Regions from separate parts of the Homo sapiens genome. Here region 2 is reported to be linked to region 1. Evidence: microRNA targets listed by miRTarBase, many of them from high-throughput screens and not tested one by one. Region 1 holds a microRNA gene; the other region holds the end of a gene's coding sequence.
What was found. Region 1 holds the annotated microRNA hsa-miR-3194-3p (AGCUCUGCUGCUCACUGGCAGU, at 1,463-1,484, opposite strand). A microRNA usually pairs through its seed, bases 2 to 8, with sites in the 3' UTR of a target mRNA and lowers its output. Matches are read on the target gene's strand: a 7mer-m8 pairs with bases 2 to 8, a 7mer-A1 pairs with bases 2 to 7 and ends in A, and an 8mer does both.

Region 2: miRTarBase lists BMERB1 as a target of hsa-miR-3194-3p. Seed matches in the 3' UTR shown: 7mer-A1 at 778-784 and 7mer-A1 at 1,325-1,331.

Annotation. Positions count from the first base shown.
Region 1 is chr20:51,451,450-51,454,449 of GRCh38, forward strand. MIR3194 (microRNA 3194) reads right to left here and starts at 1,528; the gene lies at 1,456-1,528. The region is part of intron 6 of NFATC2 (nuclear factor of activated T cells 2); the gene reads right to left.
Region 2 is chr16:15,586,266-15,589,265 of GRCh38, forward strand. BMERB1 (bMERB domain containing 1) reads left to right here. Exons shown (of 6, transcript NM_033201.3): 6 at 452-1,994. The coding sequence ends at 564. It overlaps MPV17L-BMERB1 (MPV17L-BMERB1 readthrough), which reads left to right. Exons shown (of 6, transcript NM_001414674.1): 6 at 452-1,994. The coding sequence ends at 564. Among named protein-coding and RNA genes, the nearest start is that of MIR6506, 23 kb to the right of the region's middle. RefSeq lists an enhancer at 819-1,320.

The DNA.
Region 1 (3,000 bases):
GTGGGTGGAGGTCAGGGATGCTGCTGAACATCCTGCAGTGCCCAGGACAGCGCCCCTGCCAAGTCATTATCTGGGCCAAACTGTCAATAATGCTGAGGCTAAAAATGTGGTATAGACCAGGGGTCTTCAATCCCGGACCACAGACCGGTACTAGGCGCACAGCAGTAAGTGGGTGGCGGGCGAGAGAGCAAAGCTTCATCTGTGTTGACAGCCACTCCCCATCACTTGCATTACCGCCTGAGCGCTGCCTCCTGTCAGATGAGCCTGCCATTACATTCTCACAGGAGCATGAACCCTACTGTAAACTGCGCTTGCCAGGGATCTAGGTTGTGCACGCCTTAGGAGAGTCTAATGCCTGATCATCCGTTACTGTCTCCCGTCAACCCCCAGATGGGACTACCTAGTTGCAGGAAAACAAGCTCAGGGCTCCCAGTGATTCTACATGATGGTGAGTTGTATAATTATTTTATTGTATATTACAATGTAATAATCATAAAAATAAGGTACACAATAAATGTAATGTGCTTGAATCATCCTGAAACCATCAGCCCATCTCCCCAACCCTTGAAAAGAACTGTCTTCCATGCAACTGGTCCCTGGTGCCAAAAAGGTTGGGGACTGCTGGTGCAGAGTCTTCTTGCCTAGAGCAGACTTTACCTTCATCATCTCTGATCCCTCAAGCAACGCTACTCCTCAGCTCACTCCTCAACTCACTGCCACCTGGGTACGTGTGATTCAAATCACCAGAGGCCCCCCAATCACTGGACTCTCAGGCTGACCTCGGGCTCTGTGACCTTCATAGCACTGCCTCTGCTGACCCTTCCCAAGTCTCCTTCCCCTGGTCTCCAGGGCACCAGACTCCCCTGGTTCTCCTCCTCCTGCTGTGACAGCTCCTCCTCTGCCACCTTTAAGGGATGTGGCTCTCAGTTCTCTAAGCCTCCCCTTCTCCCACTGGAGGCCATCCTGGGAGGTCGGAGCCAATTCCCAGGACTTCACCTCAGATCTCATTGCTGACAGCTCCCATGACAACATCTGCAGCCAGGATCTGGTTTCTTAGTCTAGACCACGTGGCCACATACCCACCAATCTCTTGCCTTTCCACAGAGGTGAGATCATGGTTCATCCAAGAAGGCCCATGGGTACATGAGACTCAACGCTTCCACTTCCAAAATGAAACCCGTCCTCCCTGCCCAACCTCATCCCCACACAGACCTCCTCTCCTGTGTGCTAAATCTCAGCTGGCCAAGTGCACCACGTGAACAAAACAATCTCGACACTCAACCTCTTCCCCTTCCCCATCCACAGCAGCTCCAGAAAAACAGCAGCAGCCCCTGCCCCTTACCGAGCACTTCCGGTGCTAAGCCCACTTGCTCTAATTCATTCAGACCTTACCTTTGTGGGTAGGCACTGTCACTGTCCCTGCTTTTCAGGGGATAGATGATGGAGAGTTTCCGCAGGTGACACTGCCAGTGAGCAGCAGAGCTGCCCGGGTGGCACGCAGCCCTCCTGGTGGCTGGCCCTGCCACCTGCGTTCTTAATGCCTCTCTACACCACTACGTCCCATCAAACCTCAGTGACATCTGCCTTCTAAACCACTCCCGACCCATCCCTGCATCTCCCTTCCCCACTGCCACAGCCTTACTTAATACCTTTTTTGTTATTTTTCGCAAAGGCGTCATCAAACCCTTTTAAAATAAATTCTGCCTCTTGTTATGCTTCCAACTGTGAGAATGCAGTTGTCACACCCCGGTCACATGTCCAGCCCATCCCAGAAGGATGATTTGTGCGAGACTGGAAGAAGCACTCTTTGCCTAAGACAGTCTGCTTCCCCCTGCCAGAAGTTGTCTTACTAACGTGTAAACTGGTGATGTATCCAATTTGAATGGCAGCCCTCAGAGGAGGTGCCCTTGTACAGTGCACAATCCCTCCAACTGGACAACTCACCTGTTATATTCTCGGATTGTTCTAAGGACAATAAACAAATAGACAAACATCAACACCCCTTTGAAGTAACCTACTGAAATCATGTCTGTTAAGGAAAAGGAAAATTGGTTCTAGTATCCAAAATAAGTGTCCCAAGTTATTTGAGCTAATTTCCTTCTAACAACACATTTGTTTCATTAATTATTGCTTAATCTGATATTTTCCTACTTCAGATCAGCATCTTTTCTACCACATACCCACTGAAAAAGACACCGATAGTACACCAAAGGAAGAATACACGTGGTGAATAAACAAAACATTATGCGTCTCAGAGCAAGGAAATGCAAAGTAGAAAGAAGTACCAATTCCACAATGATTCCTTTTTAATTTAAAAAAATGGCATTTCTGGGATGGGGGTGAAACTATGACTGACATGATGGCAACTTCAATTTGTAGATTTCTGGAAGGTAATTTAGCAATATGTATTTAAAGTCCTCAGAATGACTATCCAAAATTCCACTGCTGGGAATAAACCCTAAATAAACTAAAAAGATATACATATAGATTCATGTACAAGATTAATTAATCCTAGAAGTATAAGCTGATTCACTGCAGAACTACTTATAATAAAAATACAAGTAGCCAATATTAATTGGCTTATGCTGTACTTGGCACTATTATAATTACGTGACATGTATTAGCTCATTTAACCTCCATGACAACTTTATGGGGTAAGAAATTTTAACGGATAGGTAATATGCCTCGGATCACCAAGCAAGCAGATAACAAACCCAGAATTTGAACCCAAGATATCCAGGGCCAGAGTATGCATGCTTTATCACTGTGCTGTTTGGCCTCCCTTCTTGATAATAGCAAAAAGTTTTAAAAATTTCCTTCCTTATGTAAAAAAGTAATTTTAAAAAAAGGATTGAGGGTGGGAGATAATCTCATTTTCTGTCAAAATGACCTAGAAGAGTTAAAATGTAGAATGGCACATTCATGCAATGGCGAATGGTATGGCCATCACAATCCCTGAAGACACGCTGAGTAAAAAGAGCAGGGTATAAAACTGCACGG
Region 2 (3,000 bases), not on the chromosome of region 1:
TTCTAGGAGATAAAACAGAGAATGGGAGGTGGAGGTATCTGAAAAGACAATGTATGAGCATTTTCAAAAATTGAAAAATATGAGCCCTCAGATTGAAGTGACTTGAACAAAATTTCCCATTTATCTATTTACCAAATACTTCTTGGATGTCAGGCCCTGTGCTAGGCTTGGCAGGTACAATGATGATAACAGCTGACTAGGAGAAGGGCTGAAAGTTAGGGTTGGAAGCTGAGCATTGAGGACCATATAAAATGAGGACTATAAAATGAGGACCAGCTGAGGATCATATGAAATGTGCATCAGCTCTCCATACCACCTGAACAAGGCCTGGAACAAGACCTGGCCAGGGGTTGCAGTGGGGCTGGGCTGCAGATGGTCAGGGCTCTGCTCACCTCACCTCTCTCTCTCTGTTCCTTTCTCCCCCTCTCCCTGTGCCCACATCTTGCTGCAGGCTCCCGGGCAGAGAAGAAAGCAGAGCCCCCACCTAGCAAGCCCACGGTGGCCAAGACGGGGCTGGCACTGATCAAGGATTGTTGCGGGGCCACCCAGTGCAACATCATGTAGCCCCCACGTGGGGTGCCCTGGGCCATGGGGACCCCCCCCCACCCTCTTGTCTTTATAGCCCCCATTTCACCGGGGCCCAAGAGCTCTCCAAGGCAGAAGGGGTTGAAGGCAAGCCCGTGACTGTCACCAGAGGCCATGGGCACGGCAGGCGGGCCTGGCCACCCTGTACAGAGTGTAGCAGTAGGGAGTCTCTCACCGTCGCATGGTCCTCCCCAGAGCATGCCGAACCCAGGAGTCTGTCTCACTGTTTATCCAAACACCAGGAAAGGTCCTCCCTCAAAAAAGCATATCTCCACTTCTCTCTAGCTGTATCTAACCCACCGTGTGAATGAACTGGGAGAGGGGCATGCTCCCCAGCTGTGTGTAGTCGTGACTTCTCAACAATCTAGCACCATGTCGGACACGTTCCCCATCCACCCTCCTAGCTCTGCTCTCAGAGCTAGGCACATGGGCACAGGTCCCCTCCCGTCTGTCCTCTCCCAGCAACTGTGCCCTGGAGGGCTCCACATGGCCCCCGTGTCTCTCGGGCACCACCCATATAGCAGTCCCAGAGGGCCCATCTGTAAAGATCGAGCTTGTGTGTGGTGTCGTGGTCACATCTCCCGCTTCCCCCCATCCTGTGTCTGGGCACAGTTCACATCAGGACAGCGTCCATTGTGCTCTCAGTCTGCCTCAGGTGTGTGCCTGGAGGGGGCCTGGACTGGCATGGATCCAGTGTGCAGAAGAGCCAGCAGGGAACCGGAAGCTCTGATGTCAAGGCCAGAGCAGTTGAGAATGGGACCCAGAGTAGATGCTGACCTGGGCACTCCACCATTCCGGGGCCACCACAGAGATGCCAGCAGGATGCCACTTTGCCAGCCCGACACACGGACCTTTGTAAAGAACAGCAACAGGCAGGAGAGGCAGCGTGTGACCAGATTGTGTCCCGTCATTGGGTGGCATATGTTAACTAGCTGCCAAACAACTTCAACCCGTGTAATTCATGTACATTTGCAACAGCCAGCCCGGTACAGCCTGTGTGACTTCTCTGTATGTGTGTGTGTGTCGTGACCAGCCTAAGTAGTTAGCATAACTCAAGATGCTGATGTGCAGTCACCCATCAGAGAAAATAAAAATGGAAACCACGTTCACAGCATTTTAAAAGTTTTTACTTTTTTTCTTGATTATGGAAGTAATCCATGTACATAGTAAATCATTTTAAAAGTACAAAAAGTATGAAGAAGTTTGTCTTAAAAAAAAAAAAAATTATTCCTCCAACTAGAGACCACTCTGATGTTTCGACGTTTTAAAAAAGTCTTTTTTTGTGCATTTTTTCATCGTTGACATCATATTGTGGTATCATTTATAACCAGTTTTTTCCTACTTATTATACCACCATCTTCCACATCATTAAAAGCTCTTTGTAAACATTAAACACTCTTCATAAATCATGCCAATGTCTGTTTAGTAATCCATCTTGTGGATGTACTGTAATTCATCTAATCATTTCCTCACTATTGGATGTGTAGACTGGTTCTAGGTTTTCTTATAAATAGTGTCTTGGATTAGCCAGGCATGGTAATGGGTGCCTGTAATCCCAGCTACTTGGGAGGCTAAGGCAGGAGAATCACTTGAACCCAGGAGGCAGACGTTGCGGTGAGCCGAGATCGTGCCATTGCACTCCAGCCTGGGTGACAGAGCAAGACTCCATCTCAAAAAAAAACAAAAAAAGTGTCTTGGGCCAGGCGCTGAGGCGGGAGGATTGCTTGAGTCCAGGAGTTCGAGACCAGCCTGGGCAACATGGCAAAACCCTGTCTCTACTAAAAATACAAATAGCTGGGCATATGCGGTGGCGCGGGCCTGTGATCCCAGCTACTTGGGAGGTGGGAGGATTGCTGGAGCCTGGGAGGTTCCAGCTGCAGTGAGCCATGATCACACCACTGTATTCCAGCCTGGGCAACAGAGCAAGATCGCACCCCCTGGAAAAAAAAAATAGTGTCTTGATAAACATCTAGGGGGATAAGGTTTCATCTGAATTTTTTATTTTTTCCTTAAGATAAACTCCTAGAAGTAAAATTATTGGGCCATTCATAAGTAGCATTTTCAAAATATTTGTAAATTGGCTGGGTGCGGTGGCTCGCATCTGTAATCCCAGCACGTCGGGAGGCAGAGGCAGGCTGATCACTTGAGGCCAGGAGTTCGCGACCAGCCTGGCCAATACAGAGAAACCCCATCTCTACCAAAAAATACAAAAATTAGCTGGGTGTGGTGACTTGTGCCTGTAATCCCAGCTACTCAAGAAGCTGAGGCAGGAGAATCTCTTGAACATGGGAAGCAGAGGTTACACTGAGCTGAGATTGCGCCACTGCACTCCAGCCTGGGTGACACAGCGAGACTTCGTCTCGAAAAAAAAAAAAAAATTTGTAGATCAAAAGGTCTTTGGTTGGACAGGCCCTC